Linked DNA regions of Homo sapiens. The protein of the gene in region 7 purifies or fractionates together with the protein of the main gene of each other region. This does not show direct contact. Each region holds a gene or a part of one and is shown on either strand. Other genes may lie near its edges.

Region 1 (3,500 bases), on a different chromosome or scaffold from region 7:
CTGCTGATGAATGGGGAAAGGAGGCAGGACTGATTTGTGCATTTGCCAGTTTTTGTGGTATAAATACTCCCATCATAGCTGCTTTAAAAATGGCTGTTTAACAGTCTCTACAAGCTGGCTCTAGCACACCACTAGTTAAAAACAACATAGTAGTCACCTCATTAAGAAACTGAAAGTGATATAGCCATATTCCTGAAAGCAGTTATAGTTTGAGTTACACAAATGTCTGTATTCCAATAAAAGCCATTGCACAATTCCTTGCATCAGCCTCTAAAGTTTCTTCCAGGAATCATACTTTGACAACAGATTTAAGTAAGGACTTCTGGGGGTTTTTTTGTTTGTTTTTTATTGAGACAGAGTATCACTCTGTCGCCCCAACTGGAGTTCCGTGGTGCGATCACAGCTCACTATTGCCCCAACGTCCTGGGTTCAAGTGATTCTCCGACCTCAGCCTCCTAAGTAGCTGGGACCACAGGTAACACGCCACCACACTTAGCTATTTTTTGTATTTTTAGTAGAGACGGGGTTTCACCACATTGCCCAGGCTGATCTTAAACTCCTTGGCTCAGAGCAATCTGCCCATCTCAGCCTCCCAAAGCGCTGGGATTACTGGCATGAGCTACCACACCTGGCCAGGACTTTTCAACATTAAAATTACAACTTACATTATTCATGAAGTACTTGTTCATTTATAGAAGCTAGACTCTTAGTCTGCCAGTGTTTTTTCCTATAAATATTTTGTAAAACTTCACTAAAACAAGATCATAATTTGGTAATCTGCTACTTGCCCTGCCATTAAATATGTCATCACTATCTCCTTGTCTTAGTAGCATCATTTTTGATAACAAGTATTCCATTTTACAGATGTACCACTATTTAGTTTTAAGTTGCTATTTACTTTTAACTATTGAGAGCATAGTGAACAATGTAGTTACTAAATCTGAGGTCAACTATTAAGAATGGACATTTCCCAGCTACTATAAATGGAATTGAATCTAAGAGTCATAGACATGTGATTCATTTTTATTTTTATTTATTTTTATTTTTTTAGACAGAGTCTCACCCTGTCGCCCAGGCTGGAGTACAGTAGTGCGATCTCAGCTCACTGCAACCTCCACCTCCCGGGTTCAAGTGATTCTCCTGCCTCAGCCTCCCGAGTAGCTGGGATTACAGATGTGCGTCTCCACGCCCAGCTAATTTTTGTATTTTCAGTAGAGATGGGGTTTCATCATGTTGGCCAGGCTGGTGTCGAACTCCTGACTTCGTGATCTGCGGGCCTCGGCCTCCTAAAGTGCTGAGATTACAGGCCTGAGCCACTGCACCCGCCTCATTTTTAAAATTGTATCAACTTCAGGCTGGGCATGGTGGCTCACCCCTGTAATTCCAGCACTTCGGGAGGCTGAGGTGGATGGATCCCCTGAGGTCAGGAGTTCAAGACCAGCCTGGCCAGCATGATGAAACCCTGTCTCTACTAAAAATACACACACACACACACACACACACACACACACAGAGACACACACACACACACACAAATAACCAAGTGTGGTAGCACATGCCTATAATCCCAGCTACTCGGGAGGCTGAGGCATGAGAATAGCTTGAACCCAGGAGGCGGAGGTTGCAGTGAGTCGAGATCACGCCATTGCACTCCAGCCTAAACGACAGAGAGATACTCTGTCTCAAAAAAAAAAAAATTGTATCAACTCCAAAGTATTAAAAAACTGATTATCAGCTGAGCATGATGGCTCATGCCTATAATCCCAGCGCTTTGGGAGGCTGAGGCAGAAGAAGCCCAGGAGGTCAAAACTAGACTGGGCAACATGGTAAGACCCTGTCTCTCCAAAAAAAAAATTTTTTAAATAGCCAGGCATGGTGTCGCATGCCTGTAGTCCCAGCTACTCAGGAGGATGAAGTGAGAAGATCACTTGAGCCTGGGACATCAAGGCTACAGTGAGCCGTGTTCATGCCACTGCACTCCAGCCTGGGCAACAGAGCCAGATCCTGTCTCAAAGAAAAAAAAAATTATCCAATAAATAAATCAAATAAATAGGCAGAACTGATAGTAAACCTTATTATTTAATAAAAAGCTGAGTTCACATTGGCTTCCCTTTCTTAAGAGCATCATAAATAATTTAATTCAGTATAGTTTTTTTAAAAAATCAGATCCCATAATCGTAGATTCCAAAGAACTATCCAGATTCTTTTTAAATTCAGAAATGTTGTGTGTGTGTATATAGACCTTTACCTAAAAATTTTTATTAGAGATTTTTGTTGTATTATTTGTGATAAGAGAGAATGTATTCTTTTTTTTTTTTTTTTTTTTTTCAATTTGAGTCGGAGTCTCACTCTGTCCACCAGGCTAGAGTGCAGTGGTACCATCTCGGCCCACTGCAACCTCCACCTCCCAGGTTTAAGTGATTCTCCTGCCTCAGCCTCCCGAGTAGCTGGGACTACAGGTGTGCGCCACCACGCCCAGCTAATTATTGTATTTTTAGTAGAGAATGGGTTTCACCATCTTGGCCAGGGTGGTCTCGATCTCCTGACCTCGTGATCCGCCCACCTCAGCCTCTCAAAGTGTTGGGATTACAGGCATGTAATCCAAAGTGTTGGGATTCTCACGCCCGGCCGAGAGAATGTATTCTTATAGCAGACCTAGGAAGTCTAAATTTTAAAAAGAATGAGAGGGAGAGGGTGTTGATCCGCCTTCCATTAACATAACTTTTCTTGAGGAGTGTATGCATTTTCTCTAAATATGTAGATAAGCCATCTAGTTTTGCATTGTACTTTGGGTGCATTTTGGTCATCACAAAGACTCAGCCAAACATTCACAAAAGGATGGTATACTGGCCTTTGCTGGAATTCAGCTACTAGCTCATCTGATCCATTAGGGAATGTCTAAGGGTCTAGTTAGTTAATGTAGCACAAAACCTCACTCATTTGTGAGTACTGGCCAAGTGTGTCAACAAAAAAATGTTCTTAATGTCTAAGGTACAAATGGATCCCCAAATAAAAAGTTCTCAGAGGCCAATTTATAGTTTTACCCTACATAAAATAGCAGAGCCTGATTATAATTTCCACATCTTTGAATATGTGCATACTTTTGTACTTTGTGTGAGAAGGTAGGAAAATCAAACAATTCGTGTCTATTTTTTTCAGATGCCCAGACCTGGAGGATCCCCAGGGTCTTCTCATGGTTGCAGCAGGAAGGACACCTCTCTGAGGAAGAGATGGCCAGAACATTTAACTGTGGGGTTGGCGCTGTCCTTGTGGTATCAAAGGAGCAGACAGAGCAGATTCTGAGGGATATCCAGCAGCACAAGGAAGAAGCCTGGGTGATTGGCAGTGTGGTTGCACGAGCTGAAGGTACTTGCTCCTTACTCATTTTTAGATATATAATTTTAGCTGTATAATTTTAGCTATACCTCAGCCTTGCCTCACAAGCTTTCTGCCCACCTTTTAGTGCAGCCATCGCTATGGCAACTATCTTTACACAGATG
Region 2 (3,963 bases), on a different chromosome or scaffold from region 7:
TGGTAAAACTTAAAAAATCTTAAAGCTAAAAAGATGAGAATCTCACATTCAAATATAGATTCCAGTTTTCCATTTTACCCTTTTTATTGCTTATTCATGATTTTTATGAAGGATGAGCCCTATACCTTTCTGGTTTAGTCCCTAATGAGAGAAGTCTTAAAGTGTCTTTTTAAATGTTTTGCTAATAACCTCATGCAGAGATACTTGATCAATCTATGACTTAAGTATCTAGTGAGCCACCCTTGAGACCTTTCCTTCTCAAAGTCTATTTATATTTACTTAACAATTCTAACAAGGTGGGTGACGAGCTTTCCAAGTCAGTATCAGATCAGAAGGGGATAAAATTGCTAATAAGGGAACAACAGAGAAGATAAAAAATCTTAAGTACTCAAGAACCACAACAGACCAGGGTAATCAACTCTACAGGAAAAGACACCTACATACCTCAAACAGTTTTGAAAGCATCAAAAGCATCATAGTCTAATCAAGTTATTGATTCAAGTTATCATTTAAAAAAAAGTCTGTGACAAGTAGTATCTTTCATTTTCTTTTACCCTCATTAATTTTTCAGATGTGTGAGTGCCTCTGAGTTTAATTTAAGAAAAAACAGGACAAGAACAGTTGGGCTGTTTAACTAACTGAAATAGCTATTTCTGATCACAGTATGCCATTAAAAGGTATTAAACAGAAGGTTTAAGGCATTTTAGATCTTCAACTCTTATTATAACCTCTAGCCTTTCAAGGACCAAAATAAGTGTTTGTGCATTTACTGATTTATTTAGGTTCATTGTGTACCTTATCAGAGGCCAACTGAAACTTATGGGATTGTTATCTGAAGACTAACAGACCTTTAGATACCAACACATTCTAATCTCTTCAAGGCTGGTCCTACTATGGCCCACATCTATGGGAGCTTATTAGAGATGCAGACTTACCAGCCTCACCTCGCACCTACGAGTCAGAACCTGCATTTTAACAAGATCCCTAGGGGATGAGCATTCACATCAAAGTCTGAACATCACCACTCTTGCACTGTTCTAACAATTATTCAGGAATATCTATCTGAATTTTTATTTTTGAGAAAATAAGATTTAAGCTTTCTGAGAAGAGGATCATTCCTTTTTTTTTTTTTTTTTTGAGACAGTGGCTCACTCTGTCACCTAGGCTGGAGTGCAGTGGCACAATCATGGCTCACTGCAGCCTTGACCTCCCTGGGTTCAGGTGTTCCTCCCAGTTTAGCCCGCCAAGTAGCTAGGACTACAGGTGTGCACCACCACACTCAGCTTTTTTTTTTTTTTTTTTTGGTGGGGAGGGGGTGGTTTGTAGAGACAGGGTTTTGCCATGTTGCCCTGGCTGGTCTTCAACTCCTAGGCTAAAGCGATCCTCTTGCCCTGGGCTCCCAAAGGGCTGGGATTACAGGCATGAGCCACTATGCCTGGCCAGCTCATTCAGCTTTTACTGTGTTTTTTAGGGAGTCTCTACTTTCCCCAAAGATTAAGAATCACTGCATTATTACGTCAAGCATAAACACTCAGTATAACAGCATTGACTATTCAGGAAGAATCATGTACCAGCGACCGGGCTATGGCAGCTGCTGAGGAGAAGCAGCCTCCATGCATAAATCACAGGATTGCTATGGCCCATCGAATCCACTGGAGAGCTGTCCATGCACAACAGCATCCAGCAACCACAGGGCAGGGACAGAGCAGGTTAACCTTGCACAACAACCTTGTTGTGCAGAGGGATGCCATCCCCTTTGCTTCCCTCTTATTATAATCCAGGCCCTTGACTCTTCGCTGCTCCACAACTCCTTCAGGTCACCTTAACCTCAACTTCCCGTTCAGCAATTTCGAGACCACCCTCCCTGATATTAACTACATATTATTCACATTACTTCATATTATTTTGCCTCAATATATTTTAGAAACGCACACTAAAACCATGTTTTGTTTAAAATTTCATAATTCCTTCCAGAATTGCTTCCCTTTTAAACTACTGTATTAGTGGTTCCAATATTCTTCCCATTACTTAGGCATGACATTTTTGAGTCACCCCTGACACTACTCAGAAGATACACACAACCAATTAATCATCAAGTCATGTGGATCCTACCTATAAGCCTATTTCTGTTCCCCCTTTTCATTCTCCTCTAAATCCATTTCTGTTTCTCCTTTTATTCTCAGGTCTTCATAATCTATTAAGTCAAATGTAACCTGAAAGTGGGACCGTCTCAAACGTTTCCTCAATTTAGTTATATCCTATTAACATAGACTCCACAGGTATACTCATGCAAATGTACAAAATGTGTATACAATGACATTCACCGAATAATTGTTTCTCCAGGCAAATAACTGAAAACAATCTAAATATTCATGGTGACTGAAGTAAATTACGGTACATCAATAAAATAAGTATCTCGCAGCCATTGAAGGTAATAAATTAAGACATATAAAAATACGTATTGCCTATACATAAAGTCACAGCTATATCAATTTATACTATGTATATCATTTTAAAAAGATTTTACTCATTTCAAACACTACCTCATTCAAAAAGGCGACCATAAATTCCTGAGGCTGGAAACGAACGAACGGCAAGCCCCGAAGAAACACGCTCTTTTAAAAATTAAATCTTGTGCTACTGTTTCGGGGTTGTAACGCGTGCGTGACCCTCGTCTTTGAGGGCCGGATCCTGCAGGGAAGAGAGGGCGTACCTGAGGGGCCTCGCGTGCCTGGACAGCCCCGCGGGCCAGCAAGCCTAAAAGCAACTCATCCGGCGTCCACGCTGCAACCGGGCGCACGGAGGTGATGCAACGCGCTGAAAATGCGGGATCCAGTGAAGGAGACAGGCTCCGCACCGGCCAATCAGTGCGCGCTGCCTGACACCTGCCAACAAGCCAGGCGCCGATTGGTCGCGCCGGACATGATTGCGCCCACTGGCTCGGATGGTGCGACAGTGGTGCTTGCTGGTTTTGCGCCTCCACGTGGAAAACGAACCAGCGCTGAGGGCGGCGCTGTGCGTGCTGCTTGTATCCGTTGCAGTAGTGTAGACCGAGGTCTCACTCGGGTTGTGGGCACCTCCGGGTAGGTGACGGCCCACTGGGAAGGGGCGCCGAGGTCGGGGCTCATGTTCTTCATCTTGTTTGCTTTTGTCAGTATTTATCTGACTGGACACTTCGTACCTAAATTGATAACGACAAACAGCAACTTCCGGAGAGGTGGCTTTAATAATTATACTTTTGGGCCCTGAGCCGCCGACCCCAAAGCCGCTTCTCCTATCATAAATGGCTACGTGAAACGATAATAACAAAAGGGAAGGAAGGGTCTGACAACCAGATTTAAAAGTTTTATTGTATTTTACTTAAAATGTTTCCGGTAATGAAAACATTGCACAAACGATTTTTTTTTCTTTTTTTGAGAAGCGGTCTCATTCTGTCGCCCAGGCTGGAGTGCAGTGGCACGGTCATGGCTCACTGCAGCCTCAACCTCCCCGGATCAGATGATCCTCGCACCTCATCCCTGGCCAAGTAGCTGGGACTACAGGCTAGCGCCACCACGCCCGGCTAATTTTTGTATTTTCTGTAGCAACGGGGTCTTGCTATGTTGCCTAGGCTGCTGTCAAACTCGTGGGCTCAAGCGATCTGCTTGCCTTAGCCTCCTTAACTGTTGGGATTACAGGCATGAGCCACTGCACCCGGCCTGCATACTTATTATCATTGCTATGAGTCGGCTTGGTACCTTACTGATCTGCTGGTTAAAATCTGGAGCCTTGCAAAGGGCAGTAGGCCTCGGGCTTTGGCCCCAGAGCCTCTAAAGGAAATTCTGGATCTTGCCAAATTGGGAGTAGTTCCGTAGCTGCCTATTGTATCCGTTAGAGGGATATAAAAAATTTATCTGGCCTAGAATAGGTAGAATGCAGTTTCTTATTAAGTTTAGGAACATTTTGATAGTCTGTTCAGCATAT
Region 3 (3,500 bases), on a different chromosome or scaffold from region 7:
TAGTTGCCCAGGCTAGAGTGCAATGGCGCGATCTCGGCTCACTGCAACCTCTGCCTCCCAGGTTCAAGTGATTCTCCTGCCTCAGCTTCCCAAGTAGCTGGGCTTGCCACCACGCCCGGCTAATTTTTGTATTTTTAGTAGAGACGGGGTTGCACCATGTTGGCCAGGATGGTCTGGATCTCTTGACCTTGTGATTCGCCCGCCTCGGCCTCCCAAAGTGCTGGGATTACAGGCGTGGGCCACTGCGCCCAGTGAAAAAACTACGTTCTTAAAAGCGATTTCCTCAAGCAAGAAGCCTAAAAATAATAGCTAACATTTATTAACCATTTACTCTGTTCCATCAGTGAGCTGAGGGCTTGTACAAGTATTGTTTAATTCTAAGACTTCTGTGTGGTATAGGTAAAATTACAAGTTAGAAAAGTGGAGGCTCAGATGTGGGCCTCATGTTCTCCTTGACTTCTGACCTTTTCCTCTCTCACACTGTCCCTTACCTCCCCACCAAGAGCTGCATACCTAATTTTTTATTTCTCTTCTTGCTCTTACCCCCCCATTCCCTCTAAGATTTGCCCTCTTGTCTCTAGTTGCTGCTGCTACCTTCGTTGAGGCCTCATTGCTGCACCCACGTTACTGGCCATTGCCTCCTAACAGAGTTCCCTTTCTTGCTCCGTTCTTCACATTGGCCCCAGTTGTCAGTTGTCTTTCTGGCATAAGATCTAATTACCTTATTCTCCTGTTTAGACCTGTCTAGTTTCCCCATGGCCTGGAACATAGCCCTTTCTCTATACCTCTGACATACACGGGCCTTCACTGTTTGCCCAGCCTTTACTTTTTTCTTCTTGAGACAGGATCTCACTCTGTCGCCCAGGCTAGAATTGCTGTGACATAATCATGGTTAACTGTAGCCTCAGCCTTCTGAGCTCAAGTGATCCTCCTTCCTCATCCTCCCCAGTAGCTGGGACTAGAGGTGCGTGCCATATGCCTGGCTAATTTTGATATTTTTTCTAAAGATGGGGTTTCTCCACATTGCCCAGGCTGGTTTTAAACTTCCAAGTTCAAGTGATCCACTTGCCCTCGGCCTACCAAAGTGCTGGGATTACAGGCGTGAGCCACTGTGCCCGGCTGCGTTCTTTTATTAATATCTTAAATGAGCTACTTTTTCTGAGCCCCTATTTTATCTTACAAAAGTGACGGGGCTATAACACAGATTTAAAATATGTTTAGGAACATATATAAACTGTCGGCTTAAAGCCCTCGTAGAAAATTTAGATCTTGTTAAACAGTACCCTCTATCTACAGGTACTATGTGCATATGTAGTAAAAGTATAAAATCAAGTGTGGGCATGATGAAGTCACCATCTAGTGGTTATTTAGAGGACAGAGTACAGCTGGTCATGTCATCAGGAGGTTTTACCTCTTTGTTAAGGTTACATTACTTAAGCCAGGTGATTGTATACATAGGCTTTCTTTATATTCTCTGTATCTTTTGTATATCCAAAATATTTAGGACAAACAATCATTTTTAGAAATTTAACTTCCTTGAAACACTTAGGTTTCTCTTGAAAGTGTTCTGACAACTTGAATTGAGGAAGAAATCAGACTGCCTGCCTTAAGAGTTTATTTGTTCAGTGTTACATGCTTTGCCCCATGAACCACCTGCCAAATTTATATTATACACAGAGACAAGGGTATAAGATCTAGAGTCTTCCTGGCTGGGCGTGGTGGCTCACATCTGTAACAGCACTTTGGGAAGCCAAGGCAAGCGGATCACTTGAGGTCGGGAGTTCAAGACCAGCCTGGCCAACATGGTGAAGCCCCATCTCTACTAAAAATACAAAAATTAGTTGGGCATGGTGCCACGTGCCTATACTCCCAGCTACTGAGGAAGCTGAGGCAGGAAAATCAGGGAGGCAGAGGTTGCAGTGAGTTGAGATCACACCACTGCCCTCCAGCCTGGGTGACAGAGCGAGACTGTCTCAAAAAAAATAAAGAACTAGAATCTTCCCTATCATATTGTATTAGTTCTTAACATGCAGATTTCGGAGCAAGATACTTTCATCCAGTAGTTTAATGATGGTCAAAAATTTCTTCCCATATAAAAGAAGTCTTGATAGATTATTAATTTATTACTTAAATGTTTACCATTTTTAGTCTTTCCTGTGGTCTTGTACTACATCATGGATGTGGTAGAAGAGTAATTGAACTTGGGTTTTTTTGTTTTTTTTTTTTTTTGAGATGGAGTTTGGCACTTGTTGCCCAGTTTGGAGTGCAGTGGTGTGTTCTCAGCTCACTGCAACCTCCGCCTCCCCGGTGGGTTCAAGCGATTCTCCTGCCTCAGTCTCCTGAGTAGCTGGGACTACAGGCATGTGCCACCACTCCTGGCTAATTTTGTATTTTTAGTAGAGATGGGGTTTCTCCATATTGGTCAGGCTGGTCTCGAACTCCTGATCTCAGGTGATCCGCCCGCCTCAGCCCCCCAAAGTGCTGGGATTACAGGCGTGAGCCATTGCGCCCGGCCAGAACTTGGTTATTTATGCCACCTATTTTTATTTTTATTTATTTTTATTTATTTATTTTAGGCGTAGTTTTGCTTTTGTTTTCCAGCCTGGAGGGCTGGAGTGCAGTGGTGCGATCCTGGCTCACCACAACCTCTGCCTCCCAGGTTCAAGCGATTCTCCTGCCTCAGCCTCCCGAGTAGCTGGGATTATAGGCATGCACCACCATGCCTGGCTAATTTTTTATTTTTACTAGAGACGGGGTTTCTCCATGTTGGTTGTGTTGGTCTCGAACTCCCGACCCCAGGTGATCCACCCGCCTCGGCCTCCCAAAGTATCGGGATTACAGACGTGAGCCACCACGCCCAGCCTGAGCTACCTATTTTCTTTTTTTTTTTTCTTTTTTTTATTTTTGAGACGGAGCCTTGCTCTGTCACCAGGCTGAAGTGCAGTAGCTCGATCTTGGCTCACTGCAACCTCTGCCTCCCAGGTTCAAGCAATTCTCTTGCCTCAGCCTCCTGAGTAGCTGGGACTACAGGTGCGCGCCCCAACGCCCAGCTAATTTTTGTATTTTTAGTAGAGACGGGGTTTCACCATGTTGTCCAGGATAGTCTCGATCTCTTGGCCTTGTGATCCACCCGCCTCGGCCTCCCAAAGTGCTGGGATTACAGGCGTGAGCCACCATGCCCAGCCTAAACTACCTGTTTTCTAATGATCTATTTGCCTTCTGTGGATTGGTTAGGCCACTAACTTGAATCTCATGTAGCATTTCATAGGAGTTATATCTGAGAAATCTGGCTTTCAGCCATCAGCTTCTGGTGATTGGAAAACTATTACTTAAAGTTTCATTTAACTTAGGTCCCCCCCAAAGACCCAAACTGAATCTAAAGCCTCGGAGTACTCCTAAGGAAGATGATTCCTCTGCTAGTACCTCCCAGTCCACTCGAGCTGCTTCTATCTTTGGAGGGGCAAAGCCTGTTGACACAGCTGCTAGAGAAAGAGAAGTAG
Region 4 (3,500 bases), on a different chromosome or scaffold from region 7:
GAATTGTCTCGGGCCACACATAAAATATACTAATACTAACGATAGCTGATGAGCTGAAAAAATAAAAGAAAAAAAGATCCGTGCATAAATCTCATAATGTCTTAAGAAAATTTACAAATTTGTGTTGGGCAGCATTCAAAGTCATCCTGGGCTGCATATGGGCCACAGGTTAGACAAGCTTGATCTAGCTGAAGTTTTACAAAGTGAACACACAGGTGACCACCACCTGGGCCAAGAAACAGAACCTAGGGATTACCATTGTGCTGTCAGAATAATTCTTAGTGCAGTGTTTGAGGCCAAACCATTTAGAATAGTAGGAGTATGAGGGTGGGAACAAAATAGGGAAGGGAAAAAAAAAACAGTTCCATCTGTCACTTTCTCCCTTCTGACACTGCAGTTCCAGAGTGGGTATGTTTGTATTTGTGCACCAACCACAGTCTTGCTAGGTCATGTGTAACCTTGAACTTAACCTCTCTGTGCCGCAGATTCCTGTTCTGTAAAATGGGAATGACAGCATCTACCTCACAGGACTATTGTGAACCACTTGGCATTTACTGTGTGCCTGGCACTGTTTTAACCAAGCTTTAAATATATATGTATTTGCTCATTTCTTCCTAGCAACCCCATGAAGGTAGGTATCACTGTTGTAACACCTGTTTTAGAGACAAGGCACAGAGGTAAAGATGTTATCCTGTGTGCCTGAAGTCACAAAACTAGGTAATACGTGGCATAGCTGGAATCTGAACCTGAATTTCTAACATCTGTACACTCCAAACCACCTCGCTAATGACTGCGAACTGTCCTAGGAATTCTCAGAGGCCAGAAGTTCTGTCTTGTTTGCTATTTTATTTTTTGAGACAGGTCTCATTCTGCCATTCAGGCTGAAGTGTATTGGCACAATCATAGCTCACTGCAACCTTCCAACTCCTGGGAAGTGTCTGTACGTGTGTGTGTGTGTGTGTGTAAGTGTCTGTGTGTACGTGTAAGTGTGTGTACGTGTGTGTGTGTGTGTGTGCGCACGCACGCGTGCCCGTTACGTTGACCAGGCTGGTTGTAAACTCCTGGGCTCAAGTGATCCACCTGCCTCAGCCTCCAAAAGTGCTGGGATTACATGTGTAAGCCTCTGTGTCCGGCCTCTGTCTTGTTTTCTGCCAAGTCCTCAGGGCCTGGATAGGGATCATTGTTGGTTTGGTCTGAGTTTTTTGTGTTTTAAAAAACTGTGGTAAGATATACCTAATTGAAGTTTTTATTTTTTATGGAGGCATAACATATCTAGAATAAGGTACACAGATTTTTTTTTTTTTTTTTTTGAGGTGGAGTTTTGCTCATGTTGCCCAGGTTGGAGTGCAGTGGCGCAGTCTCGGCTCACTGCAGCCTCCGCCTCCCAGGTTCAAGCGATTCTCCTGCCTCAGCCTTCCAAAGTGCTGGGAATACAGGCGTGAGCCACCTCGCCTGGCACTCAGATCTTAATACATTTTTAGGCTGGGCATGGCGGCTGACACCTATAATCTCAGCACTCAGGAGGCCAAGGAGTGAGGTTTGTTTGAGCCCAGGAGTTCAAGACCAGCCTAGGCAACATAGCAAGACCCTGTCTCTACAACAAATCTTAAAAATTAGCCGGGTGTGGTGGCATGTGCCTGCTGTCCCAGCTATTCGGGAGGCTGAGGTGGGAGGATCGTTTCAACCTGGGAGGTCAAGGCTGCTGTGAGCCGTGATTGCATCGCTGCACTCCAGCTCGGGTGACAGTGTGAGACTTTGTCTCAAACAACAAAACAAAACAGTTTTCCACATACACAGCACTATTGTAACCACTGCCCAAATCAACTTCATTGATTTTTCTTTTTTTGAGACAGTCTTCCTCTGTCACCCAGGCTGGAGTGCAATGGCATGATCTCGGCTCACTGCAACCTCCGCCTCCCGGGTTCAAGAGATTTCCTGCCTCAGCCTCCTGAGTAGCTGGGATTACAGGCATCTGCCACCACGCCCAGCTACTTTTTGTATTTTTAGTAGAGATGGGGTTTCACCATGTTGGTCAGGCTGGTCTCGAACCCTTGACCTCAGGTGATCCATCTGCCTTAGCCTCCCAAAGTGCTGGGATTACAGGTGTGAGCTACTGTGCCTGGCCTGGTTTTTCAATTGAGGTGGGGGAATGGGGAAGGCTAGAGGGCTTCCCCACTTCCAGAGTAGCTGTGCGCCTTGTACTTGCTTTATTCACTGATGGTCCTTCTAATAATGCCTGCGGAAACCCATTTTGTCAACTGTGGCCACATGTAATCTGTTTGCTCTGTCTGCAGTGGGCTCGGGATGAGTTTGAAGGCCTCTTCAAGCAGCCAGCAGAAAATGTCAACCAGTACCTCACGTGAGTAACTCGAGTGCCCTCTCGCCCTGTCCCTGTCCACCAGCCAAGGCATCCCGGCTGCTTTCCTCATGACAGTAACACTTGGCACCAGGCACACTTTTCACATGAATGAGTGGCTGTTGGGGCCTCATGTTGTTTGGGGTCGGGACTAGTTTTCCATGGAGAAAGTAAGATTGCTCTGGAGCCCACTCTTGAGGCTGACATGTAATCCTATCCTCTGTCCTCTTCGATTCCTGATAGAGACCCCAAGTTTGTGGAGCGAACACTGCGGCTGGCAGGCACTCAGCCCTTGGAGGTGCTGGAGGCTGTGCAGCGCAGCCTGGTGCTGCAGCGACCACAGACCTGGGCTGACTGCGTGACCTGGGCCTGCCACCACTGGCACACCCAGTACTCGAACAACATCCGGCAGCTGCTGCACAACTTCCCTCCTGACCAGGTAATGCCCAGTTGTTGGGTCCATTTGGCAGAATGTGTTTCCCTGAAATGGGAGCCTGCAGTGTGGGTCCTCCCACTGTGGAGTCCAGCTGTGGCAGGTGCCCTGAGGCATGGGGATCTGAGAAGAGTGATTGATCCTGACCTGCTTTTTCCTCACCCTAGTTCCTTTGAGCAAAGAGGCTTGGTTGCTATTGCCCTTGACTGTGGTGTGGGCTGCGTCATACCTGATTCCCAGTCAGGGCTGTAGGGATTATGGGGGAGAAATTCTGGAGTTAAGAGCACAGGAATCAATATGGGTTCAAATCCAAACTCTACTTGAACTTAGGCAAATCACGTAACTTCTCTCTGTACCTCAGTTTCCTCGTCTGTGAAGTAGAAATAATAGTGATCTATCTCATGGGGGGTTTGGGGAGGATTAACTGGTATTTATTAAAATGAAGTTAGTACAATGCCTGGTAATCCATGAGAGTTTGTTAAATGATGGGCTGTTTAGCACAAAATGGCTACCCAGTGATTGGTAATTGTTCTCTCAGCCAGATCTCTGGTTCAACCTGTGGGACCCTACAGTTGAGGTATTTTGTGATTGGCTCCAGTCCGCATCGAGTGCCCAACCCAAGATAGTGAATTGGGGGCACATCTGGGGCCTAGGTGAAGCGTGAAGATTGTCAGAGAGGCCTTCACTCTCAGGTCCTGTTCTCAAAAATCT
Region 5 (3,500 bases), on a different chromosome or scaffold from region 7:
TTTGCCATGTTGCCCAGTCTGGTCTCAAACTCCTGGACTTAAGTGATCCACCCACCTCAGCCTCCCAAATTGCTGGGATTACAGGTGTGAGCTACCACACCCAGCTTCAGCTATCTTTTTTATTAACTTTATTGAATTGTAAACAGAGAACACTTTAATTCTAAACAACTCTCTCAAGAGAGTAAGTCTAGGCCAGGCGCGGTGGCTCACATCTATAATCCCAGCACTTTGGGAGGCTGAGGCTGATGGCTCACCTGAGGTCAGGAGTTCGAGACCAGCCTGGCCAACATGGTGAAACCTCGTCTCTACTAAAAATACAAAAGTAGCCGCAAGTGGTGGCACATGCCTGTAGTCCCAGCTACTCAGGTGGCTGAGATGAGACAGGAGAATTGCTCGAACCCAGGAGGTGGTAGCTGCAGTGAGCCAAGATCGCGCCACTGCACTCCAGCCAGGGTGAGACAAAGAGAGACTCTCTCAAAAAAAAAGAGAGTAAGTCTAAAGACTTACTCTTTTCCAACATTTTAGATGTCATTTTTTAAGCTTCATACATTAAACATTATTACTGCTTTATATGGCAACATTTACCCTGGATTCATATTTGCCAATTTATTTATTCCCTATTCCTTCTTGCTTTCCTTCTAGGATAATGCTTATTCCTAAAGTACATGCTTTTAAAATTCCATTGGTAAATAACCTCTCTCAGATTTGGTTCATCTGAAAATATTTTCACTTTGCCCTTATTCTTTAAGGAAGGTTTTGATGATAGTTACTTGATACTGGCTGTAACTGTTGCTATTCAAAGACCTGCTACTTGCTGTTCTTCTGAAGGTACTGTGTTTTCTCCCTGCTTACCTCTCTGTATTTGGTATTTTCTACCTGTAGCTTATTCTGTTTGTTATACATTATAAATTTCCTGTCATGATGGGCTGACCACCAATTCTAAATCAATTTCAGTTACCATCTCTTCAGATTATTGCAATTCCTCCATTCTTTCCTACTGGGATTGCAATGGGCATGTTTGACTTTCTCAGTGTCTTCAACATCTCAAGCTCTCATATGTTCCATCCCCTTGCTCCTCTGTGTGAAATTCTGTTATTTCTTCAGATTCATCTTTCATTAACTCTTTTATAGCTGTTGTTTAACATTGTTTTTCAAATCTTTCTGGTTATTTTTGATAGCCTTTTGTTGCTCGCTATTATAATTCCATTTTAAAAAATATCTTTGAACATTTTATATCTAATTATTTTACATTTGTATCTAGAAATTCTAATGCTGATTTCCTTAGGGATCTAATTTTTATTGTCTCTGCTTTGGTGTAGTTTAATTATGTGTTCTTTGCTTGTTCAATTGACAGCAATCCCAAAGACGTAACTAAACTGGAGTGCTTTTTCCAGAGAGGATCTGTTTATTTCTCCTGAGACAATGACAACACCCACCTCTGTGTATATTTTACTGCTTTTAAGGGTTCCCGTTCAATCCTGATCTCTGACTCAGATCTCCCACTAGAGCACTGATATGGCCATCTGCCCTCAGGGCAACCCAGCTTAGAGTGTTTAAAATTCTCTATAAGCACAACAGTACATTAATCAGAAGGGCCCATTAGAGGATCTAGTTTTCCCTACTTCTAAAAGTGGAAGTTCAAACCTGTGTTTCAATTTTACATACACTCTTATATAATGTACCCTCCCTTAGAGTGCAAAGTATCAGTACTATCCTTTATCATCAGTTTAGGAGTTATATGTAGTATTACTACCTTAACATTAAAAACAATAACATTAAACTGCCTGTAATTAATTATAAAAGCTTAGAGTATTCAGTTAAGGTAAACGATACCTAAAATGTTCTCCACAAAGCTAAAGGGAACAAGATTATTTCTTAGTTTATTAAAAGGAAAAAAGAAAGTGTGATTCGAAACCCAAGGAACTGAAAAATAAGGTCAGATGCCTCAAATATGAGGAAACTGCCAGAGAATAAGCTGGATCCCTGCACTGACACCAAGGGAGTAACTGGCTAAACCACAGGCAGCTGTGACACAGCTGTGACGGCCCAGTCCCCGAAGGGACCAGAGAGTGCTGTGAAGGAGCTAAGTGCTAGCTTCAGGGAAAGCCCAGCCAAGCCAGGCTGTGGTCACTCCCGAACACTAAGGCTAGCCCTGGCAACAGCTCTGTGGGAGGGTCAATTGTCAACAGTCACAGTGAACAGGGGCACCCATATTACTGTGCTCCATGCCTGTGGTGGGACAGCCTGATGGCAGGATTGCCAACTATTACATCCTCCTGCAGGCATATTCCCATAGGTAATAGGAAAGTGAATGCTTTCTTGAATTTTGGACTAAGTCCTGTCATTTCACTTTACAGTTAAATTGTCTAGATCCAGACACCTAAACAGCATAAAATCAGGGATGAAAACAGAGGCATTCAGACCTGAGAGACTTGTGTCAGAAAGGTCAAGCCTAGAGAAGCTGCTAAGTGAAAACGGAAGCTGAAGAAAACAGGAGGTGGAGGAGGATGTGGGCTCCCAGGAGGAGAGGTGAGCCTAGGAGGTGTTGCCCTAAGGCAGAGCCAGGCTTTGCTTCTCAGATGCCACACAGCACTTGGCCCCACTGAAGGGCCTGTCAGCTTCTGTGGGGCAGGTATCCCAAGGACAAGGACCCAGCAGGGTTGTTATTGTGTCTCCACAGCCCTGCAAAGGGCTTAGCTCAGATTAGAGGTGCAGTGGGGACCTTTCAAACCAAGACAGAACCAGCAGCCTTGCCACCAAGGTACACAGAGGTATGACTAATAAGTCTATCAATGTTCCCCTGTAAATGCAATCTATCCTCAAAACAGAGTTACCAAATGAATTAGGGCTCTAAATATGAACCCGGGAAAACTTAATAACCAAACAGTAGGCAGTAATTAGGTGATAAGATCCAGGCATACGCTGCTTAAAAAGAAGCCCCATTCAAACATTAGAATGGACACTGCAGGTGGCTCTTGTCAGGAATGACCTGCATGAACTGGGCTCACCTTTTCATTATAGTTGATGGCAATCACATCCCCGGTGGTCAGACAGGCAAAGTTCCTAAGTGCGTTTTCTAATCTGCAGACACATTCTGTCAAGGCAACATGGCAAGATGGATACCTTAATCTGAAACAAGTTTCCATGTTAGATGATTACTGGTAGGTAGAGACTGTACCATGATGGTACTTGAAACACGAAGCTTTTAATACAATAAAGTACTACTTGGCAATAAAGAAGGATGGAACTCCTAATATGCAATAATATGGATGAAATGCCAAGCTGGGGTAACAAATGCCAAGCTGGGGGAAGGGGAAATAACCAACCACAAAAGGGCAGTGAGATTCCATCCACATGGAACCCTGAGAAAGACAGATCTATGAGGATGGGAGGTAGCTGAGAGGTTTCTGGGCCAGGGGATCAGGTGGGGACTGACAGGAAAGGACCTTTTGGGGACATGGAAATGTTCTGATTACATGGGTGTATACATTTTCAAACTG
Region 6 (3,500 bases), about 140 Mb from region 7:
TTGCAGTGAGTCGAGATCGCGCCACTGCACTCCCGCCTGGGCTACAGAGCGAGACTCCGTCTCATTAAAAAAGAAAAAGAAAAAGAAACTGGGTCAACTTCAAGACTTTAAGTCGTAAAGGTTTCCATCAGTTTGGTATAAGAGTTGAGTTTCCAGACTAATCAGAGGGAGGGTGTTAATTGCAAATTGTGTGTCCAAGCTCTTCCTAGTATCCTTTTTGTGCCTTAACAGAGCAGAATAGGAAAGGAAAAAAATCCCTCATTGCCCCCAAAAAATAAAATACTGGTTGTTTTCTTCTGTGATCAGAGTTGAGTTTCATCACTTCTTCCCTTCTAGGGTCACCTGCCTGGTTAAGGGTAGTCAGTCTGAACATTCATTCAGGATTTCAGTGTTCCAGCCTACTATCTCTGAGTTTCTTTAGTACTTACTCCATGTATCCCATGTGGTTAGGAGCTAGAGTCCTGCGTTTGAATTCTTGCTGTTCTACTTTACCCTGGGCAAGATATACATTCTTTTCAAGACTTGCTTTTCTCACCTGTAAGATGGGGATAATAATAATAATACCAATTTCACAGGGATATTTAGATCAAATGAGGGAATGCAGGTAAAGGATTCTGTAATTATAGGTCTTAATAAACGTTAGTTAATAGTCTGTTCTTACATGCTGTAGAGTCGATACTCCTAAACTTAGAATTAAAACTGCCTTCTAGGCCGGGTGCGGTGGCTCACACCTGTAATCACAACACATTAGGAGGCTGAGGTGGGCCGATCACTTGAGGTCAGGAGTTCAAGACCAGCCTGGCCAACATGGTGAAACCTATATTCTCTACTATTCTTTAGTAGAGAATTTAGTATTCTCTACTAAAAATAAAAATATTAGCTGGGCGTGGTGGCGGGCGCCTGTAATCCCAGCTACTCAGGAGGCTGAGGCAGGAGAACTGCTTGAACCCAGGAGGCAGAGGCTGCAGTGAGCTGAGATTGCGCCACTGCACTTCAGCCTGGGTGACAGAGTGAGACTCCGTCTCAAAAACAAACAAACAAACAAACAAAAAACTGCCTTCTAAAAGAACGAAGTTTCTGAGACCGTAACTAAAAATAAAAATTACTTTTGGATGAATAAAATGTAATTTTTCAGGAGAAAAAATATGTAATAGTTTCACCACTGAAATAAAACATAGGGTTTTTGAACACAAATTTCTCAGATTTAAAAATATGCATATTTCCTGTATAAAAGTTGAAAAGTGGGCAGTGGCTGGTGGTGCCTGTAGTCCTAGCTACTTGGGAGGCTGAGGATCCTTTGAGTCCAGGAATTTGAGGTCAGCCAGGACAATACAGGGGGACCCCATCTCTTAAATCAGACAAAAATAAAAGTAGAAAAAAATATTAAATAAGAAATTTGGAAAGTGGTAAAAACTTTTAAGACAAAATTACCTTAGTCTCAGCTGGCAGAACCATTGTAACAAACTGGAACAGTGGTTTTGTTCCTTATTTTAAATTTAAATTCTAAAAGCAGTACATATTTATTATAAAAGGTTCAAACAAGTCAATTAAATATTTAAAGAGTGAAAATTCTTTGGGAGACTGAGGCAGGAGGATCACCTGAGCTCAAGAGTTGGAGGTATAGTGAGCTATGATTGCACCATTGCATTCCAGCCTGGGTGACAGAGCAAGACCCTGTCTTATAAAATTCTTAAAAAGTGAAAATTACTTTCTCTTTTTAGTCCCATTCCTTAGAAGTACCTACCCGCTGTTAATAGTTTTACTTACTGAGTTAGAAATAAGTAGTACCTTTTGTGTGTCGGATACTTTTTATGTTGATTTTAAAATAAAAAATCTGATCATTAAGTATTGTTTTCCATATCATGACATATAGTGGCACCTCTACTTTTTAAGTCATTAGATATTATGCTGTATGGTAGTACTTTAATTATTTGTGATCATTTATGTTATTTCTAACTTTGAGCAACTAAAACTAGAGCCTTAATGAACTTATACGTATGTCTTTGTGCACATGCATATGTAGATAAGTATTTCCATTAAAACGACTTGTAAGTGTGCATTTAAATTTCTTTTTTCTTTTTTTTTTGAATTGCATTCCAAAAAGACTTGTAATGTATATTTCCTTATTGAGTTGTAGAAGCTCTTCACATGTAATAGATATTAATCTATTGCCTTCTGTTTAAGATCTTCCTCATTCCACCTTTACAAAAAACATTCTTATGTGTTTTCTTCTGGTACTTTTAATAATTATTGTGTTTCAATCTTTTTTTTTTTTTTGTGACAGAGTCTCACTCTGTCACTCAGGCTGGAGTGCAGTGTTGGATCTCAGCTCACTGCAACTTCCGCCTCCCGGGTTCAAGTGATTCCCCTGCCTCAGCCTCCCGAGTAGCTGGGATTACAGGCACCATACCATCGCACCCAACTGATTTTTTTTTTTTTTTTTTTTTTGTAGAGACGGGGTTTTGCTATGTTGGCCAGGCTGGTCTCAAACTCCTGACCTCAGGTGATCTGCCTGCCTTGGCTTCCCGAAGTGTTGGGATTACAGGCGTGAGCCACCGTGCCCAGCCCATTGTGTTTCAATCTTAATCTTTCTGGAATTTTTTCATGCCTGGTGGGGATAAAAGAGTTTTAAAATAGTTTTGCTACAGAAATAAAATACAGGTATAAAAATATTTGGCCGGGTGCAGTGGCTTACGCCTGTAATCCCAGCACTTTGGGAGGCCTAGGTGGGTGGATCACCTGATGTCAGCAGTTGGAAACAGCCTAACCAACGTGGTGAAACCTTGTGTCTACTGAAAACACAAAAAATTAGCTGGGTGTGGTGGTGCACACCTGTAGTTCCAGCTACTCCGGAGGCTGAGGCAGGAGAATTGTCTGAGCCCGGGAGGCGGAGGTTGCAATGACCTGAGATCAAGCCACTGCACTCCAGCCTGGGCAACAGAACGAGACTCCATCTCTAAGTAAAAAAAAAAAAAGAAGAAGTAGTAACTAGATTTTTCTGTTCATTGGTATTTTTATTATCTTACTGGACTTCAGTAAACGTCTTTATTTTGTTTTCCAGGTTCATTGTTTTATCTGAGAATAATAGTAACTTCAGTCACTTTTCTATGGTTACAATATTTAACCTTTTTTTTTTTTCTTTTTCTTTCTTTTTTAAAGACGGGGTTTCACCGTATTAGCCAGGATGGTCTCGATCTCCTGACCTCGTGATCCGCCTGCCTCAGCCTCCCAAAGTGTTGGACAGGCATGAGCCACCGTGCCCAGCCCTTAACCCTGTTTTAGGTCTTTATTACATTGGCCTGAAGTTCCAAGACTTGGTTAAACAAGAGACGTGTCGTTGTCTTGAAATGACTCTGGTATTAATATTTTTACAGTTAGGGATGATGGCAGCTGTTGGATTTAGAGAAAGATTATTATTTTATTCTGTTTCTGCTTTACAAAAAATAGGAATGGCTTCTGAATTTTATGAGATGCTATTGTAACATTTAGATGATGATATG
Region 7 (3,500 bases):
TGGAGCACTCAGGAGGCAATTAACCTGGTCTGCGGGAGACCAGAGAAAGCTTTCCAGTAACATCTCAGTTGCGGCACAAGAGGGAGCAGACAGAGAGGTGCTTCAAGTAGAGAGGCCTCAGCACATGCAGGAGCCTAGAGGCGAGGGAGGAGACAGGCTGCTGGAGCAACTGAAGGAGGAAGCCAAGTGGTGGAACAACAGAACGGAGAGAGATGGGCAGGCCCTGCAGCCCACATCCAGCCCTGTCCCCCACACATGGCTCCTGTGTGTCCCCCAGACTCCTCTCCCTCCAATGCAGCTGGCACCTTCTGACCACACTCAGCCTTCTCGGTCACTCGGCCACCTGGTGAAGCCTTGCCGTCTTCCTGAGTGTAAGCTGAGCTCCTGCTACATGGCTGACCCCCCGGGGGACCCTGAGGGCCTCTGACTCCTTGAGGGTGTCAGTTTTAAAGATGAAGCACAGAGGAGTCGAGGAGAGGAGATAGTGATTTGCTAGAGAAGTGCTAAACAGAGAAACAAGGGCTAGGCCAAGGACACTCATGGACTCCACTGTGGAGGGGGACCTCCCCATCCAGCGAACGGCAGCATGCCTCAGGCTACCACGCCCATCACCAAGGGGCTACGTGCACCTCTGCCTCGCATGGGAGTCCTGGTGCTCCCCATGGTATCTGGCAAAGTTAATGACTGCCGTGAAAGCTGAGGGATCTCTGCTTTGCATCCCAGAGAATTTATACTTTGTAGAATTAGAGATGGTAGACAGCCAAGACACACAAAGAATTGAGTCCCTGGCTTTCTAACAACAGCTGGGTTTCAACGGCATCCAGGTCTTTAGCTACGTGAAATAAATGGCTGGCCCTGGCAAACAAGCACAGGCCTCCACACTGGGGTGAGAGGAACAAAAGGGGGCTTTACTTTAGAGAGTGACAGTTGAGGATTTCAATGTCAACAGCTGATGGCAAGGGACTACCTCTGAGGCCAATCTTTAAGTCAGAGCCTCCACTAGAAGTTGTCTGAGCTCAGCATGAGAGTAGCCAAAAACCAACAAACCCGGGTAAGATAAACTGTCCAAGATGGCAGACCCCAAGCATTATCCGCCACTCCCCTGTTCCATGCCCAGACACATGTCACCATTCCCTCATGCCAGATCTTCTTCCTCATGCACTCTGAACCCCAGTCAATCCAGTGGTCTAGGGAGCCGCCACCAACCAACCACAGCTGGCCTACCACAGGAAATCAACATGCCATTACGGGTAAGACAGGACACGTTGTTAAAAATAACTCCACTCCGGGTTTTTAACCAGGCCAGGAAAAACTAGGCTAATATTTAAGCACCCAGAATTACCATGAAAGCAAATTAGAAGGTGGCAGGTAGCCGACTGTTTCCCGGCAGTACCCCCATAGGTTGCCTTAGCTAAGAAGCCTGATGCTTAGAAAACCAACCAACACTTCACTAAATATCTCTGCCTGGGAAAGTTCTGGGGTTCTGGAAAAGCCGGCATTTGGCTCTCTGGGAGGCAACAGAGAGCCTGAAACATAAAAAGGCACCATCCACACCTGATGGGAAAACCACAAATGAGTGTCTTTCTGTTGTTATGCTCAAAGACGACCATTTGCTTTAAGCTCACAGGTCGGCCACAGGGGACAAACTCTGACCCCTTTCTGTAAGGGGGATTCGGAAGCTGGTGGCACTCACCAGCCTTTCCCCATAGTCAAAAAGTTTCATTGCCACAGGAGATGTTCATCTCCACTGTTGCCTGCCAGGTCGGAGCCACATCACCCCTCCTGGGAGCAGCCTTCTACCCGTTTCCTGTGCCCAACTCTCTCCTAACGCAAGTGTTACAAAACTCCAAAACAAGCCCGTAGCTCTGAATTCTGTCACCGAGCCCCATTCTCATTCTTCATAGCAGTCATCACAAGTTTTAGTTGTAAAAGCCCTAGACAGTAAGCTCCCTGAGGGCAGGAACTTTGTCTTGCCCACAGCTGAAGTCCCCTAGACTAGTGATTATAGGAATTTTTTAAATCTATATTGAATGAGCCGCAAGCACAAGTTTGAGGAGAAACATGTTGTTTTAAATGACTTGAGGCTTAAATGAGTATCTGAGTAGAATCAGTCTGAGTTGAATGTCAATACTTTCTGATCAGTGTGAGAGAGAGTGAGTGTGAGTGTGTGTGCACATTTCCATGTGGTAAGGGGGAAGCAGGAATGGAATCAGGAAAGCGTGTGGTCAGTGGACACTCCAGCTGCCTGAGAGTTAACCCAGAACCCAGCAGTGGGCCCCTCAACCTGCCCTTCCCCTCTCAGCGTGACCCAGAGAAAGAAGAACAAGACCCCGCTGAGGCTCTTTCTGCTCCTGGGGTCCTGGGGTGGGGCTTTGCCCTCTTCACACCACACCTAAGACAAGGCATAAGTGGCCCAGAACAGCCCCAGCCCTCGGTCTTCTGTCCACACCACACACTTGCCTGCCCTTTTAGAAATGGGGGCGGGGGAGGTGGTCTCAGAATTCACCACTATAGAATTCATCCATGTAACCACAAACGACTTGTACCCCAAAGCTATTGAAATAAATAAATAAAATGTGTGGGGGTGACAATCATTTGAGTAGATAACTAGAACCTATGGAGAGTCCTCCCCCCAAAACAAATGGAGGAGGGTCTTTCACTACTTAAGTCATATATTTATTTATTGTTTGAATCTTTACAGCAGTGGTTCAGGCTGAAGTGATTTTGTCCCTTAAGACATCTGGCAAGATATGGAGACATTTTTGGTTGCCACAAATAAGAATGGGGAAGGAGAAGTCTGCTATGGGCATCTAGCAGGTACAGGGCAGGGATGCTGACAAAAGTCTACAATGAACAGGACAGCCCCACACCACAAAGAATCATCTAGCCCAAAGTGTCATAGTGCCGGAGTTGAGAAACCGTGTTTCACAGTGATTACACATGACATCACTAAATACAAAAGAAAGAATTTGAATCTGCATATCTTGATCAGCTACTAGTATTGTCAGTGAAAAAAAAGAAACCAAGACACATGAATAAGGAGCCAAGCACAAAATAAGGTAGAAATTTTCTTTCTTTTTCTTTTTTTTTTTTTTTGAGACAGGGTCTTCCTCTGTCACCCAAGCTGGAGCGCAGTGGCGCAATCTCAGCTCACTCAACCTCCCAGGCTCCCATCTCAGACATCGTCCCATCACAGCCCCCACCCCACATAGCTAGGATTACAGGCACGCACCATCACACTCAGCTAAGTTTTGTATTTCTTGTAAAGATGGGGATTCCCCATGTTGCCTGGGCTGGTCTCAAACTCCTGACCTGAAGCAATCTGCATGCCTTGGCCTCCCAAAGTTTGGGGATTACAGGTGTGAGCCACTGTGATTTTCAACTTTGTAAAGAACCAGCTTTCCCCTGAATCAAGAACTAGGTCCTCCAACACACGCACAACTGTTTCCAGTCAAAATTCTAAGCCGATGCTTTTTGCCATGTTACCGGTTCTACTGGGA

Evidence for each region.
Region 1: the proteins of FLNB (region 7) and GART fractionate together in Homo sapiens (co-fractionation; one large-scale study listed by BioGRID). This does not show direct contact.
Region 2: the proteins of FLNB (region 7) and IARS1 fractionate together in Homo sapiens (co-fractionation; one large-scale study listed by BioGRID). This does not show direct contact.
Region 3: the proteins of FLNB (region 7) and EIF4B fractionate together in Homo sapiens (co-fractionation; one large-scale study listed by BioGRID). This does not show direct contact.
Region 4: the proteins of FLNB (region 7) and UBA1 fractionate together in Homo sapiens (co-fractionation; one large-scale study listed by BioGRID). This does not show direct contact.
Region 5: the proteins of FLNB (region 7) and UFD1 fractionate together in Homo sapiens (co-fractionation; one large-scale study listed by BioGRID). This does not show direct contact.
Region 6: the proteins of FLNB (region 7) and PAK2 fractionate together in Homo sapiens (co-fractionation; one large-scale study listed by BioGRID). This does not show direct contact.

What each region holds. Positions count from the first base shown.
Region 1 is NC_000021.9:33,511,118-33,514,617, reverse strand, and holds part of GART (trifunctional purine biosynthetic protein adenosine-3), read left to right. Parts: intron 1-3,159; coding exon 3,160-3,366; intron 3,367-3,500. UniProt on the Homo sapiens protein: Trifunctional enzyme that catalyzes three distinct reactions as part of the 'de novo' inosine monophosphate biosynthetic pathway.
Region 2 is NC_000009.12:92,290,898-92,294,860, forward strand, and holds the start of IARS1 (isoleucine--tRNA ligase, cytoplasmic), read right to left. Parts: upstream 2,801-3,963; 5' UTR 2,714-2,800; exon of another isoform or gene 2,544-2,713; intron 1,697-2,543; exon of another isoform or gene 1,561-1,696; intron 26-1,560; exon of another isoform or gene 1-25. UniProt on the Homo sapiens protein: Catalyzes the specific attachment of an amino acid to its cognate tRNA in a 2 step reaction: the amino acid (AA) is first activated by ATP to form AA-AMP and then transferred to the acceptor end of the tRNA.
Region 3 is NC_000012.12:53,030,456-53,033,955, forward strand, and holds part of EIF4B (eukaryotic translation initiation factor 4B), read left to right. Parts: intron 1-3,350; coding exon 3,351-3,500. UniProt on the Homo sapiens protein: Required for the binding of mRNA to ribosomes. Functions in close association with EIF4-F and EIF4-A. Binds near the 5'-terminal cap of mRNA in presence of EIF-4F and ATP.
Region 4 is NC_000023.11:47,207,329-47,210,828, forward strand, and holds part of UBA1 (ubiquitin-like modifier-activating enzyme 1), read left to right. Parts: intron 1-2,294; coding exon 2,295-2,359; intron 2,360-2,599; coding exon 2,600-2,795; intron 2,796-3,500. UniProt on the Homo sapiens protein: Catalyzes the first step in ubiquitin conjugation to mark cellular proteins for degradation through the ubiquitin-proteasome system.
Region 5 is NC_000022.11:19,462,194-19,465,693, forward strand, and holds part of UFD1 (ubiquitin recognition factor in ER-associated degradation protein 1), read right to left. Parts: intron 3,082-3,500; coding exon 3,009-3,081; intron 1-3,008. UniProt on the Homo sapiens protein: Essential component of the ubiquitin-dependent proteolytic pathway which degrades ubiquitin fusion proteins.
Region 6 is NC_000003.12:196,742,857-196,746,356, forward strand, and holds part of PAK2 (serine/threonine-protein kinase PAK 2), read left to right. Parts: intron 1-3,500. UniProt on the Homo sapiens protein: Serine/threonine protein kinase that plays a role in a variety of different signaling pathways including cytoskeleton regulation, cell motility, cell cycle progression, apoptosis or proliferation.
Region 7 is NC_000003.12:58,126,922-58,130,421, reverse strand, and holds part of FLNB (filamin-B), read right to left. Parts: intron 1-3,500. UniProt on the Homo sapiens protein: Connects cell membrane constituents to the actin cytoskeleton. May promote orthogonal branching of actin filaments and links actin filaments to membrane glycoproteins. Anchors various transmembrane proteins to the actin cytoskeleton.